2 separate regions of the Homo sapiens genome follow, and region 2 is linked to region 1. A link means that fine-mapping ties the variant in region 1 to the expression of a gene that starts in the linked region. Tissue or cell type: whole blood. Region 1 holds a variant in brackets; the other region holds the start of a gene. All regions are shown on one strand. Distances are between the middles of the regions.

What was found. PIP is the estimated chance that this variant, and not a neighbour inherited with it, causes the effect.
Region 2: DIP2C starts here. The variant in region 1 is fine-mapped to the expression of DIP2C in whole blood (INTERVAL, PIP above 0.99).

The regions. Positions count from the first base shown.
Region 1 is chr10:575,277-583,276 of GRCh38, forward strand. The region is part of intron 1 of DIP2C (disco interacting protein 2 homolog C); the gene reads right to left. Among named protein-coding and RNA genes, the nearest start is that of DIP2C-AS2, 49 kb to the right of the region's middle. The variant G/A (reference allele first, on the strand shown) is at 4,140.
Region 2 is chr10:685,833-693,832 of GRCh38, forward strand. DIP2C (disco interacting protein 2 homolog C) reads right to left here and starts at 3,836. Exons shown (of 37, transcript NM_014974.3): 1 at 3,662-3,836. The coding sequence starts at 3,746. RefSeq lists an enhancer at 4,211-5,146.

The DNA.
Region 1 (8,000 bases):
ATCCAGTCTTTGTGATTGCTTTTATAAAAAGTAAAATTCTCATTTGAGGATCATATACATTAACTGAAGTTTTCAAATGAAGGGACTGGTAAACTTCAGGGCATATGATTTCTGCCATACACGAGGGGAGCAGTGAGAGAAAGGAGCTGGGATCAAGTGTGCTGAGGCCGTCCTAGGACTGAAACTCAGCTTCTGCCAAAACAAACGCAAAAGTCTCTCAACTTCGACAGCGAGCTCTGCTGAGAGTGTCAAGATGTTGAAGTCGCAAAGGGGCTTCTCCCTGCTATGGGCACGTGTGATCCTTGCAAAAACATAGCTCAGCATCATCAAAACCCAGAAAAGAACACAAGCCTTCCAGACATGACATCCAAGAGCAGAAGGGAGCAGAGTCCAAGCTTGCTCAGCAGAACTGTTCCTGGAGGAGAACAGCACAGAGGAAGTCATAGGGAGGGCAGGGCAAGCTACAGCAGCCTCCATCTCGCCGCAAGCAGGGCCAGAGCCAGGGGCACAGTTTCCTCCCACCCAACTAGGAAGCGCAAGGAGCCAAAGAAGAGTCAATTTAGGGTCATTTTCAGAAACGTGCAACAATGAGAAACAATCTGGTCTTACCTGCGCCTCTCCTCCATGGTAACAGCTGAGCTCGCACTTTCAGGATTTCAGTGGTTTTGTGTCTGTCACATCCCCCACCTCCTTGCAGATGCTACTCCTGCACGTGGGTGCCAGTCTCTGTCCTGCTCCTGAGGCCACACCTGTTGCCATCCAGCACAGTGACCAGGAACTCACCTTTGTCCGGGAGAAGCAAATGCAGAGTTCACACGCTCCTGTACGGGTTTGCTGACCAAGAATCTAACTACGCTGTCGGATTCCAGATGTGCTGGCACCAAGCAGAATGTCACATGTCCAGCATTTATAAATGGTATCAGTGGGGTTCTCCTGGGACTCCCAGGCAGCTGCAGAAGGAAGGGAGCTGTCGCCCAGTTATCCCAAGCCAAAGCAACACTGCGAGGCAAACGCCACAGACCACATCACACTCGAGCACTCACTGACTCTTGACAATTACTCATACGTGTGTTGAAAGGCAATGTTAAGAAGCGTTCAGGGTACAGGAGTCAGACAGGCCTGGTCTCAGCCATGGGACAGCAGTAACTGCCCACAAGTCCCGTATCTAAGCCCTGACTTGCCCATCCGGCATTCCTTCAGAAACAATGCCCACCTCACAGTGCTGCCATGAGCGCTAAATTAGCATGTACATACACAACCACATTCATTTCAATTGTGCTTTCTACTCCAATTTAATACAACCAGGTGCTATCATTGAGACTGAATAACCAATATTAAAACAGAAGATCAGGCCAGGGATGGTGGCTCAGACCTATAATCCCAGCACTTTAGGAAGGTGAGGTGGGTGATCACTTGAGATCAGGAGTTGGAGACCAGCCTGGCCAACATGGCAAAACCCCATCTCGACTAAAAATAAAAAATTAGCCAGGCATGGTGGCACGCGCCTGTAACCCCAGCTACTTGGGAAGCTGAAGCATAAGAATCTCTTGAACCTGGGAGGTGGAGGAGGTTGTAGTGAACCAAGATCGTACTGTTGTGCTCCACCCTTCCAGCCTGGGTGACAGAGCAAGATTCTGTCTAATAAAAAAAAAAATAAGAGGGCAAGATGAAAACTAATTGCCAAGGTCCACATTCCATTTACTTAAAATATAAAATTCATTAGCTGGTAGTTGATCCAGTTTTTTCTTACTTCGTTACAATCTTGTATATCTTTCTAACACTGCTCAGCATGTTTACATTTGAACACACCTCAAGTGTGACTAACAACAAAAAATAAAGCGCAGATATTCCATAAATGAGTAAGTTCCAGTATGGCTGCATCCTACTGCAATTAATCCTTTGACAAGGTAAAACTGAGCCATCCTGACATAGCACTGACACATGGTACAAGAAGAATGACCTCCAGTTAAGTCACTGGATTTAGAGAACATGTAAATACAGTTTATCACTAATTCACTAGCGATTAGCAAAAATTTAGAGGAAGAAGAAGTATCGGTACTGTAACTAGAAATAAAGGCAAAAATAAGCATGAGAAATTAGTCACGTTTAAGTCAGTACCCTTTCTATGTGGCCGTAACAGTTTGCACACCTGTTGTGTGTACTTTCTCATGCTAAGCCGTCACCAAGCTCTCTATGAAGGTGGTAAGAGCTTCGCGAGTCGCAGAGCCTCGTATTCCTATTTAAACCTTCAAGAGCCAACACCACACTCAGCACGCAGTGAGAACTCTGAATGCTCAGAGGAACGCATGATGGGATGAAGGGCCCCAGCCCTGCCATCAGCCTGCTGCTTATTTAAAGTATAAAACAAAGCCCTGCCTTCAAGGTGCTCAGATCTAACTAATACAAGGTTTTGCTTTTAACAAGCTAAATAACTAGTAATGATGAAGACTCTGAACACCTGGGAGAAATGTAAGGCAACCTAGTAAGAGGAACTTGGCTGAGACTAAACCCAGAGATGTTTTGTTTTGTTTCTTTTGTTTTTTTGTGTTTTTTTTTTTTTAACCACAAAAGAAGAAAGAACTTAAGAACCTTTTGGAAAGTTGGGAGCAATTTCTATTTCTCCATGGTAGAACCTGGAATTTACCTTTGAGACAGACTGTCCTTCTGTTCTGAAAAATCAGATTATTCTTGCAATCCTCCATCAAGGGTGAAATTCCCAAAGGTGTGGAAAACTAAGTACTAATTTTAAAAATCCAAATAACTACAATCTTAGATTTGAGATTATTCTCAAATTCCACATTTGGAAATGTTTTGCACAAAGTCCTTATTTTCCCTGTTTACTCGAAAGCTCTCTATTCTTCTTTTATCCTAAATATCTTCTTTCTCATCCTTCCAAACAGTACCTGAAGATGAACTTACATATCATTTTCAACGTTAACAAAGAAGATACTGCATTTGTCATGAACTGTTTATATTCACAACACTAGGAGGGATTTTGCTACATCATGAAGAACACAAGGCAGTAAATACTCCACGAATAAAGAACAGTAGAAAATGAACACGTTTCCTGATGAGTGGCGACTTCTCATTTATTGAGCTGAGGGCTGACAAAGTTGTGATATGGAAAGCTAGACAGCTGCTATATTAGTTCTACCTCACTGAAATCACCAAGTCCCTGTTGTTTCGTTTCTCTCATCTGGGGATGAAACACACCTCACAGAGCTGTTTATGATGTCAGGAACACACACATCAAGGAAGTGATTGGTTCCTAAATCATTGCAAAGCATCTACTAACCTGCCAAATTTCACTAGCTTGTAATGAACAACTGTTTTCATCCTATACTCTCCGGTGCTAACGAGATGGTGTGTTCCGGGATCCCTGCAGGGGCCCTATTCCTGTTGCCATAGAGCACACACACATCTAGATCCACATACTATATGTACATAGGTACAGTGTAACATGTGTACATGCATAGTGTACACACATCCAACTACATATAGTGTACAAGCATAAGTGCACTATAACATGTGTGCATGCATAGAGAGCACACACATCCAGATCCATATAGTGTACGTACATAGGTACACTAACACACATGTACGTGCATAGAGCATACACACATCCAGATCCACAGTGTGTGCACATAGGCACACTGTAACATGTGTACGTGCATAGAGCATTCACACATCCAGATCCATGTAGTGTACATATGTAGGTACACTATAACGTGTATGTGGTAGAGCGTACATACATCCAGACCCAGTGTACAAACATAAGTGCACAACATGTGTATGTGCATAGAGCATACACACATGCAGATCCATGTAGTGTAGGTACATAGGTACACTAACATGTGTACATGCGTAGAGCATACACCCAGATACAGTGTACAAACCTAAGTGCACTATAACATGTACATGCATAGAGCATACACACATCCAGATCCATTTAGTGTACGTACATAGGTACACTAACATGTGTACATGCATACAGCATACACACATCCAGATTCATGTAGTGTACACACATAGGTACACTATAATACGTGTGTACATGCATAGTGTACACACACCCAAATGTAGTGTACAAACAAGTTCACTATGTGTGTACAGTGTACACACATCCAGATCCATATAGC[G/A]TATGTACATAGGTACACTATAACACATGTGTACATGCATAGAGCGTACACACATACAGATCCAGTGTACAAACATAAGTGCACTATGTGTGTACATGCAGAGAGCATACACACATCCAGATCCATAAAGTGTACATACATAGGTACACTATAACACATGCGTACATGCATAGAGCATACACATCCAAATAGTGTACAAACATGTGCACTGTAACATGTACATGCATAGAGCAAACATCCAGATCCATAGTGTATGTACGTAAGTGCAGTATAACATGTATGTACACATAGTGTACACACATCCATATCAATACAGCATACATAGGTACACTATAATGTATGTACATGCAGAGCATACACATCCATATCCATATAGCATATGTACATAGGTACACTATAATGTGTACATGCATAGCATGTACACACATCTGTACAGTGTACATGCATATGTACACTATAACACATGTACATGCATCTAGCACACAATCTATATGCATACAATGTACATATAGGTACACTATAACATGTATGTACATGAATAAAGCACAGCCATAGCCAATGTACATATACAGGTACACTATAACATGTATGTACATGAATAGCATGTACACGCATCTCTATCCAGTGTACACAGGTATACTATAACCTGTATGTACATGCATATAGCATACACATGCACATTTGTATGTACATAGGTATAACATCTATATACATGCATATAGTGTACACATATCCGATGTACAGTGCACTACAGCATGCCTACACATGCGTAGTGTATACATATGCACATATATATAATGTATATATGTCAGTACACTAACATATACATGTGTAAAGTATGTACATATGCAGTACATAGTGTATGTACATATGCAGCATGCGTACATTAGTGTGCACATATCCACAAGTTTATTCAGTGTGCGTAGTGTACATGCATGCTTACAGTGTGCACACATGTATATATATAAGTACACAAATGTGCAAATACCCATATGGTGTATGTACACAGGTACATATATGGCGTTAAATACATGCATGTATGTACACATATGCAGTACAGATACATGTCCAAATAGTGTGGATATAATAGTGCCCATAGTTATGCACATATGTACACATGTACATGCATGCCCATAGCATGCACACATGTAGGACACATGTAGTGTACATACCTATACATTGTAAATACATGTACAATGGCAATACATAGTACGCATACACCACATACAAGTACACATTTGTATAGTACACATATACCGAGACCCAGAACAGGCCATGAATATTAACGCTGCAGAAAGGCTTCCAGTTCCACATAATTTTTTTTTCCAAACTGTAATAGAAGTCATACAAAGAGGGTTTTAAGGAAATAATTTTCATGAATAAAGCTAGTGACAAAAACACAGTGAGAAGGGCGCAACCACTTTCTGTCAGAGCTCTGGCTTGACTGTGGAGTTCAGAGGTTTCCTAACATAGTACACGTCAGGACTGACTCACGATGAAGCACTCCTTAAAAAATTAGAAGTGTGTCCTCATGTTTTGGCGTTTGAGACAAAGCCTCTTATTTAATCGAGTTCTGACAATTTGACTCACAGTATTCTGGCAGATTATTCATTTTCTGGTGAGAGAGACCAATGTCCCAGGGTGAGGGCAACACCAAGCCCTTCAGGGTCAGCTTTTCTAGGAGCGATGTCTGGCAGAATGCAATCCAACACCAAAGTAGGATTCCCCACCACAAAGTGGACATCCCCCACCTGGCCACTTAGACGCTTTCTGATACTTACTCTAGTCTACTTGTTTCCCTTTCTTGAATTCAGCTGGGGAAAAAACAACAAAAACAGCCCATGTGTTTGTATGTCTAAAAAGTTAATACATCCACACCCAACTTTCTAAATGAGAGATGGCAAGTATGATGGTCAAACAGTGGCCACTGTTGACAAAATACAGGCAGTCTTCTGCAAATATGAGTTTCTAGGAATACAAAAGTCAAGGGAATTTACTTAACATGTTAAGCTGTCAAAGGTGCTAATCAAAAATGTACTTAGAGGTTTTTTTTAAAGTTATATTTGAAGATTTTTAAGTTGCAATACTTAAAAGCCTCTAGAAAAAGAAAAGATACAAGTATCTGGAAGATTTATACTAAATGATTTTAATGTATTTTTGGTAAAGTTAAATAAGGTCAGCCTTGAAGTAATGGGTTCCATTACCCTCTGAGGCCATGGATGGAACCCACCACCACGAGAGAATCAAACAGCAAGGCTGCACACACAGGATGCAGGCAGTGAGCCGGGGCTGGCTGGTTGTCAGGTTCTGGGTCAGTTCTACCCGGTTCTGCCCAGGCCCTACTGGAGATGAAAACTTGTCCTTGAGAAGCCTTCAATCCCCCACCTTTCAAAATCTAATCCTCTCCAACTGAGGTCCGAGTCCAAAAATCTACTGACATCTTAGCACATGTTAGGCCAGCTGTCCCCAGCCTTTTTGGCACCAGCGATGGGTTTACGTGGACGACAATTTTTCTGGGGGGTGGTTTTGGAATGAAACCGTTCCACCTCAGGTCAGGCATTGGATCCTCATAAGGAGCACCTCCGAGATCCCTCACGCACAGTTTACAATAGGGTTCCAACGTCTATGAGAACACAGTTTACAATAGGATTCCAGTGTCTATGAGAATCTAATGCTGCCACTGATCCAAGAGGAGGCGGAGCTCAGGCAGTCATGCTCACTCACCGGCCACCCACCCCCTGCTACAAAAACCCGGTTCCTAACAGACCGTGGACTGGCACCAGTCTGCAGCCCAGGGCTAAGCCCTACCGGCCAGCACCCACACCAGCCCAGGTGGAGACACCACTCGTGACCCTGCTGGGCAGAAAGGAAGCCTGAGGGCAGCTCCCTGACCAGGATGCCATGCACCCAACCCAAATACAGAGGTTCTCCGTAAAAACCCACCGTACACTTAACATAAAACAGAGTCACACCGGGGCAACATAACAAGACCCCATCCCTGCAACAAAGAAAAGAAAGTTAGCCAGGCATGCTGGTGCGCGCCTGAGGTCCCAGCTACTTGGGGGACTGAGGTGGGAGGATCGCCTGAGCCAGGGAGGTCCAGGCTGCAGTGAGCTGGGATCACACCACTGCATGCCAGCCTGGGTGACAGAGCAAGACCCTGTCTCAGAAAATATAAATAAACTAAAAACCAACAGAAACTGGATGCGTTTAGGTGGAGGAAACACCGCAGAAGACTAGAGAATGGTGTGATAGCGTTTCTATCAGGAAGAAAAGCGTGTCTCCAAACCAAGTGTTCACGCCCTTGTGAGACCCTGTGCTTGGGAAGCACCAGCGTGGCCACGTGGCCGGCCTCTTCCTGGTTTAAATATAGTGGAATCAGACACTGTAATGACACAAAGGGGCTATGACAAAACCTGGAGGTTCTAATTGAGAAAATTATATACCTAAGTTCCTATGATATAGTCTCAAAACAATAGAAGGAAGGTACCATTTTCAAATAAAATTTCTGATGTATATTCAAGTGTTACCTCTTGGGAAAATGGGGAAGACTAATTTTCTCCATAAACAAAACACACAGCACTTTGCCACACATAATACATGGCGATTTATGGCAGTTGCCACATATTTTCACATGTATTACCTTTTGGGCATCTTCTAGGTTTGCAAGAATCAGTGACTACTTTTATCCCCCACAACACACAGAGAAATGCATGAGCATATCTCCTCCAATGGAGCCTTCACCATAAATACACTCATAGGAAAAAGAACGTTGTACTCCAAGTGCATCTGCAAACGCAGTTTTCTTCTGAAAAGCCAAGGGGCATGCAAAGCAAACACGGCATATCACTAAAGCGCAAA
Region 2 (8,000 bases), 110 kb after region 1:
CACCTGTAATCCCAGCTACTCAAGAAGCTGAGGCATGAGAACCACTTGAACTCAGGAGGCGGAGGTTGCAGTGAGTTGAGCTCATACCACTGCACTCCAGCATGGGAGACAGAGTGAGACCGTCTCAAAAATTAAAAAATAAATAAGACATGAGTTTGTCTTTATGGGGAAGTTTTCTGCTTCCACTCCAATTTGTTTGGCAATTCCATGTAAAGTATCAGTTATTAATGAAATTATTTTTAGGCCCTTTAAAGCCACAAAAAAGAATACCCAATTATAAAGGGCAAAAATGTAGGGAAGAGAAGGGAGAAGAAAATATTCTGGGGAAAGGAGTATGAGAAAGCAGCCGCCACAGCCCTCTCATTCCTTGACCCTCCCCAGAATGGAGCTCCAGATCACCTGGAGGCCTCCCCACCCTCATGGCCTCCTCACCTGCAGGGCCTCCTCAGCCACAGGGCCTCCGCACCCTCACGGCCTCTCCACCTGCGGGGCCTCTCCACTAGCACAGCCTTCCCCCCACGTGGTCTCCCCACCTGCACAGCCTCCTCACCCGAGGGGCCTCCGCACCCTCATGGCCTCCCCACCTGCACAGCCTCCGCACCCACACAGCCTCCCCACCCGCACAACCTCCCCACCCACACAGCCTCCTGACCGTGTGGCCTCCTTACCTGCATGGCCTCCTCCCTGGCTCACACTCAGACCCAAGTATGTGAGGAGATGACCCCCCTGGCCACACAACCTGAATGTATCCCCACATGGATTCGAGGCCATCAGCTCCCACAAGAGGGCTGCCCAGCACTTCTCCCCACAGAGAGCCCTTGTGTTTTGCTGGCCGCATGCTCTGTGGTGTGAGCTGGCCTCACCTTCCCCTGTGAGGGGGCACAGGGCACGGGACAGGGACAGGCAGTGGAAGAAGGATGGAGCCCTCGGCCCCGCAGCAGGAAGTGCCCCTGCAGCCCTGCAAAGCAGGACACCAGCAGTGCATGTAATGGCGCCCAGCAGGCGGGCACAGCAGAACTGGACCAGGGTCTAGAAACCCACACAATGCGTAACCCACGCAGGCTGGCAGCCCACACAGGAACCTCAGGGGAATGCTCTACTCTTTCCTTCAGTCTATGTTATGTGCTTAAAACGGAACTTTTTCCATCCTCCTCTGTAGGAAATGAGCACTGGAAATTCCACATATGTTTCTATAATATTTTCTGATATTTTAATAAAATGATGACAACCAACTTAAAGAATTCTCTCCACTTGAATTTTGATTGAAGATGGGAAATAATTCAGCATTAACAGCTGTTTTCAGCTTTCACTCTGAAAGCAGATACATTGAGGAATTTTTGAAGTCCAATAACATAAAGAAACACAGAATTTTGATCCTTCAATTCTTGGATTTCTATTAAGCAATACTGGAAAACAAGTTGATTCATCTAATTTAAGCCTGTAAAACTGTTTTATGTGGTTATGAGACAGAGAATTCCAAATGACCTTACAGCACTACCCCCATAAACTCAACCTGGGCAAACCCACACTTCACAGCAAAGTTAAAGACCATCCAGCAAACAGATGAGGCAGTGGGGCCAGCACAGGCCGGAGGGTGCAGAGAGGCTGAATAGAGCCACGGAGCAACCCTCTCACCCTTTCTTCTTAAATGTGTAGCTCAGATCTCAGCAAGATTCATGTGGAAGGAAAAATATAATTAGGCTTCCTGCATGCAAACACACACACCCCTTTCTCTGCCTGGTCTCTCAATAAGAAACTAACTCATTAAGCCCTTTTTAAAAAACCTGTACAGACGCAAGGTGTTCACAGGGAATTCGGCTGAGCACACCTTCGTCGAAAGTGGCTTTGCCATCATCTGGGCAGCAAGACAGTATCACTCACCCTCCAAGAGCAACTGACAGGCAAGTGTCGTCACCTCAAAAGGCCACAATGCCCAACACAGGACACCCATTCCCATAGACATCCCAGACTCTGGGAACAAATGTGGGTCCAACTTCTGGGCTAGCAGTGGGTGGGGGAACCCTCAGATGGGGCTCGCCCTGCTGAGCTCAGGGGCGCTACGCTCTGCTGACCTGGATGGGGCACTGACACTTCACATCAGTGTGATGCAGGCAGCACAGAAGCCCCTGTCCTGAGACAGCGAACACGGAGGGTGCTGCAGGCAGGGGTGCACCTGGGCCGAGACGCAAGCCGGGAAACCTACCCAAGGCTGACACAATCAGATAACCAGGGTGGGCCTTTTGCAAATGATACACTCCTTACCCACCAAACGAGCTGTCTGCACTGCACAATCTACTTACCAGTTTACATCCGAACCCTGCACACGGCAGCTCCCGCCTCCTAGCCATGCCCTCCTCATCCTCAGCTCCTCAGGAGGGCAGCAGCCAAGCCCACAGGCCTGGAAGACTCTGCCCCCCGCCAACTGTGTCACGTTACAGGACACTGACACACCTCGCGGAACCCCACATCTGAAACTGAAAAACAGTACCATTTCCCGTCCCCAGAAGTCTGGAAAGGCAGTTGGCTGCACACCATGGCCCCTGCTCACTCCCTTCTTTGCCCTGAAAGTGTTAAAAAGGAAAACATAAAGTCAACACCAGCTCCTCCCTGCCGGTGAAAATTGGCACGAATGAGTTTACTTTCTGGCTGCCGGCCCTCACAAAACCGTTACCCAAAAAAAGTTCACCATGCTAAACTGCTCCAAATATAAATGTGAGACGCGCCGGCCCACCCCCACCCCACCCCACGTTACAGGAATGGCCTGACCAGGATGAGCCCAGAGACGGCTAAATGCACATCAAACATTTCAGATTTGGGAACTTCAGTGGTTTTGGGGAAAAGACCTGGCAAAGCCCGATCTGAAACTTATGACAGTTGAGCACATGATCTCCGCCATGAAGAGCAAATAAGAGGCGTACACAACCCTCCATAAGACCGCGGTGGCTGATCTGCCACAAACCCTCCTACGAGAGGACCAGGACGGCAAGGCCGGAGCCCGGCCCGGGGGGAGGTTGACGATTCCGCCCAGCCCTCCCCGCGCAGCGCCCGCGAACAATGGGGGTGGGATCCCCCGGGCCGCGCCAGGACCGCTGCACGGCCTGAGCCACCAGAGATCGAACCCGGGGTCCAACGACAAGTTTCGCATTGAAATCTGGCCGGGCGTTCCAGGCCGAACCCGCCAGCGAGGAGGTGGCGCGCACCGCGCTGCTGCACCAAGGACGCCGCGGCTCCAGCGCAGAGCGCACGGGAAGGCCGATCCCGCCGGGCCCGCTGCATCCTGCGTCCCCGCGCGGCGCCCAGGCCCCACAGACACCCCCAGGGCGCGGGGGGATCGCGGCCCCACAAACATCCCAGGGCGCGGGGGATCGCGGCCCCACAAACACCCCCAGAGCGCGAGGGGATCCCAGGCCCCACAGACACCCCCAGGGCGCGGGGAATCGCGGCCCCACAAACGTCCCCAGAGCGCGGGGGATCGCGGCCTCACAAACGTCCCTAGGGCGCGGGGTCTGGGGGTCCGGGGGACGCGCACGCTCCGGGCTGGGGTCGCACCTCCCCCTCCGGGCCCGGCCCCCGCCCCGCCGCAGGCCCCGCGCCCCCAGCCCTCCGCGCGCGGCCCTCCCCGGTGACAGCGCGGCCCGGCCCGGGGCGGGGGCCCGGTTACCTTCCGACAGCTCCAGCTCCAGCTCGGCCAGGCGCGCCCGCACCTCCAGGGGCAGCGCCATGCCCTCCAGGCTGCGGTCCGCCATGCTCCGCGGGCGCCGCGCCCCGCACGGCCTCCTCTTTGTTCGCAGGCGGAGGTCTCGGCGGCTCCTCGCGCCCGGCGGAACCGCACCGAGGAGGAGGCGGCGGCGCGGGCGCGGGAGGCGGGCGGCGGGCGCGCAGGGACCTCCCTCCCCTCGGCGCCTCCTCAGCGCGGCCCCGCCACGGCCGCCTCGCGCGCCCCCGCGCCCCACGGTCCCCGGCCCGCCCCGCGCGCGCTCGGCCCCTCCCCGCAGGCGCTGCGGACCCGGACCCGGCCCTGCTGCTCTCGGCCCCGGCCCGGCGGGAGCGTCTCTGCGCGCGCGCGTCACGGGGCCGCGGGGGCAGGGCGCGCGCGCGCGGGGCGCGAGGACGCGCAGGAGCGGGAGCGCGCGGGGGGGCGCGCGGCCGCGTCGGCGAAGCGCGCGCTCCCGGGGGCGCGCTCGGGGGCGGGTTGGGGGCTCGGGGCCCGCGGGGCGGGGCGGGGCGGGGCGGTCTTGTCTGTCCTGGGCTCTGCGCGTCCAGCGGAGCCTGCGGGCCCGGCCCCAGAGCCTGGTCCACCCGGCTCCCTGCGAAAATCACGTCCTGGAGCCGCAGCTTGACGTCTGCGCGAAAACTCGCAGTGCCCCGGGTCTTGGAGGGCTGGTTTTTTGTTAATGAACATTTTAAGAGGCGGAGACGGAGCGCTAGGCTGGAAGTTTCGAATGCAACGACCAGCAGATGACCTTGAGCGACTCTGAGCCTTTGCCTGGAGGGTCAGTGTCCCCATCTGTGAAAAGGGGATGGGAAGACAAGGTTGGGTCACCTAATCTCCAAATGCCAGGTGGGCCCGAAAAGCCTGGCTCCAGCCCTCCCGGAACAGGCTGCAGGCCCCAGGGTTCCCACCGTCCTTCTCCTTGTGGGGCCATCAGCTCCCAGCCTCAGTGCCACCTCGGCGAGGCTGAAGCCCCGTCTGTGCCTCTAGTCCTGACCATCTGGGGAGGCCCTCGCATCTCCAACCGTCCACTGAGCAAACTTCCCTGGAAGCCCCTAGACACCCCAAACGCCACAAACCCTAAATGAAGCCAGCTGCTTCCAGTGACTCTTAGTCACTGGAAGTTCTGCTTCTCAGAACCGCCCCCGTTGTCTTCATCATCACCTTCCTCTGTCTCCACACATCCTCCCCAGTCTGTTGCACAAAGCCCCGACGACCTGGCCTCCTTTTCATCCTTGTACCCCCTCTTCCCAGCCCGGCCCCTCCCTTAGGCCCAGAGCTTCCTAAAGACCTCCTCGCCTCCCCGTCCTCCACGGGACATTGGCCAGCGCTGGCTCCCGGAGGCCCAGCTGCACTCACTCCCCTTTCAGAGTGGGCCGCAGGAACACAGGTCCCCCACCTCACCCCCCTACCCCTACCCCCCACCACCCCCCCACCCCGCTTCGACCGGAGCCCCCACCAGCCGGGACCCACCTGCACGGCAGCCTTGCGGCCTCCACACTCCGGCTCCTGCAAACAACGCGGCTGACCCGCAGCACCTCTGCTCCCGGCCTCCACCCCGGAGAGCCTGCCCCTTCTCTGCCCCTGCCACCCACAGCCATCCCTGACCCCAGGTCCAGAACAATCTCTCTCCTTTCTCTTCCTGCACCGGCCACTTCCCGCCCTCATCACGTTTGACCTTTTTTATCTTCTCTGTATTCTTTGTGAGTGTAAGCGCCTGGAGGACAGAGCCCATGCCTCACCCACCTTTGCCCTTCCCATGGATCTAGCAGTGGTGGCAACCGCCAGAGGTGTGTGCATTTCCTGTAAGGATCGGTCCTTTCAGTGGGGAATTGTGAGAATGACATTCGACGATGAGCTGGGAAACAGGAACCCCAAACCCGTGTGCTTCCTGCGCCGAGCCGTGTGCCTCCGCCTGGTGTGCGCCGTGGGTTCGTCCTTCGCTCCAGACTGCGTTCAATGCAACAGATACGGGTGGCACAAGCATGTGGCCCCACCATCATCTCTCCCCTTTGCATGATAAAGAGACCGACCAGCAATGCAGGGGCCGTGGGGAAGATCCCACACAGCCCCTACACGTCACAGATAAAAGTCCTTAGAGACAGAAAGGGGAGCAGAACCAGGATTCAAACCCCAGTCTCCAAAGCAAAGCCCTGAGTTCATTTCATTACAGCAAAGATGCACTGTGCATTCCAAGCAATAAATGGTGTCAAGTCCATTTAGGGCGGTATAATGTCGGAATAAAAAATATATATTCGCGGGCCAGGCACGGTGGCTCACACCTGTAATCCCAACACTTTGGGAGGCCAAGGCAGGTGGATCATGAGGTCAGGAGTTCAAGACCAGCCTAGTCAATATGGTGAAACCCCATCTCTACTAAAAACTACAAAAAATTAGCTGGGCATGGTGGCACACACCTGTAGTCCCAGCTACTCAGGAGGCTGAGGCAGGAGGATCACTTGAACCCGGGAGGTGGAGGTTACAGTGAACCGAGATCGCACCACTGCACTCCAGCCTGGGTGACAGAGCGAGATTCAGTCTCAAAAAAAAAAATACATATATATATATATATATATATATATATATATTCTTTTTGATGGGCCTTAATCATTTGCATATGATCCTATGACTGATGTTGGTTGCAAAGAAAACTTGTAATTTGCATTAAACACATCAATTGCAAACTCAGATTTTGAGCTGATGGTTCCTTTCAGCAGGTCTTTGGGCACCTACACATTACACGTGTGAGTGTGGGCTCTCGGTCTTAGACTGCCATTTCCAGGAGCCTGATAGATATCATCTTTATCTGGAACTCCTACCATCTCCTTGAAATTCATGCTGTCCACAATCAAACTCATCCTACCTACCAATACTTTCCCCCATGTACATTATTTCTGAGAGCAGCCTCCCTTTCACTTTGAGTCCCCTCAAGAACTTCTACCCACAGCATTTCTCTTGTGCGCCACCTGCTCCTGTCGAGGCCTCTGGCTATGGCCCATGTCAGGCCTTCAGAGCCTCCTTCCAGTCTTCCCACCACGGCTGTCAGATCACTCTTCTAAAAAGTCCCTCTTAGCACAGACCACAGGCCCCTTGCTGTACAACCCATGATTCTATGCCTGCAAACTGAAGAAATCCTTAATTGACACCAATGGTCTCACGAGCCCTGCACTAAACATTTCTCCTGCTTTCTGTTCCTCCCGTCTCTTTCAAGCTCCGAGGTTCAGCTGCAGAATTCCCAGCTGTCCATGGAGAGTCCCCACCTGTGGTGTCTGTTTTTCTAATGTGCTCCCTCCTGTCGTCTCCCCTTCCCCACAACCTGAGTCATAGCCGCACACGGAATTTCACCCAGTCCAGTCCAAGTTCAAACGCCACTTCTTCCATGCAGCCTTCCCAAATCTCCTGGTTAGAAAGATTCTCTCCCACCTGTGGAATTACACACCTCTTTATCCACCTGCTCTCCCTGGGATTGGTCATTTATGTGTGTGTTTTGTCTGGTGGCTGGCTTATCTATAATTGTCCCATTGTGTTGACTGACACCACAAACAGCATAGTGCCTCTGTCTGGAAGTGCAGACCAGCACAGGAGCGGAGAGGAGCAGCCCCTTCCTCGGTCTCATTCTGCTCCACCTGTGAGCAGCCTTGCGGAACGTGTGGTTGGTGAACACCTTGCCATCTTACGTGTTCCTAAGTGTAAAAACCTGGTTCAAATGTCTGCCCAGGCAGGAATGAAGGTGCCCAATAGATGTTTATTAGAATGAATCAAATAGACTCCCAGGGCTGTTGGCTTCAAAAGCTCTGCCAAACCCCCGAAATTTCCATCAGGGATTAAAGTCACGTTTTTGAGCTACTCCACAGTTTTGCCTAGACAAGTCTCGAAAACAGTGTTGTGAGCTCCACAGAGCGACAGCTACATGTATCTAATTAAACAATTAATTAATTACCATGCCAGCTAGTATTTGAGGACCCGTTTCTAGGTCTTGCTTTACTGTCTGCTGACGGGTAATTCGTCACCATTATTTACCCTAACTTCCAGGACCTCACCTATTTTTTTCTGTCTCACTGAATTCCAAGCCAATTCTAATGAGTGAAAAATTAATTACTTACGTGTAATGGGCTCGAGATTTCAGGAAATCTGACTGGGGTGGGAAAGAGTAGCAAAGGAATGTGTTGAATCAGAGCAGGCTGGAGGTATCGGTGCCAGGCAGAGAGTTTATTTATTCATGAGATCGCTAACAGGAAGGAAACACAAAGCTCTCAGGGAGTGGCTCCCCTGCAGAAATGCATCTCAG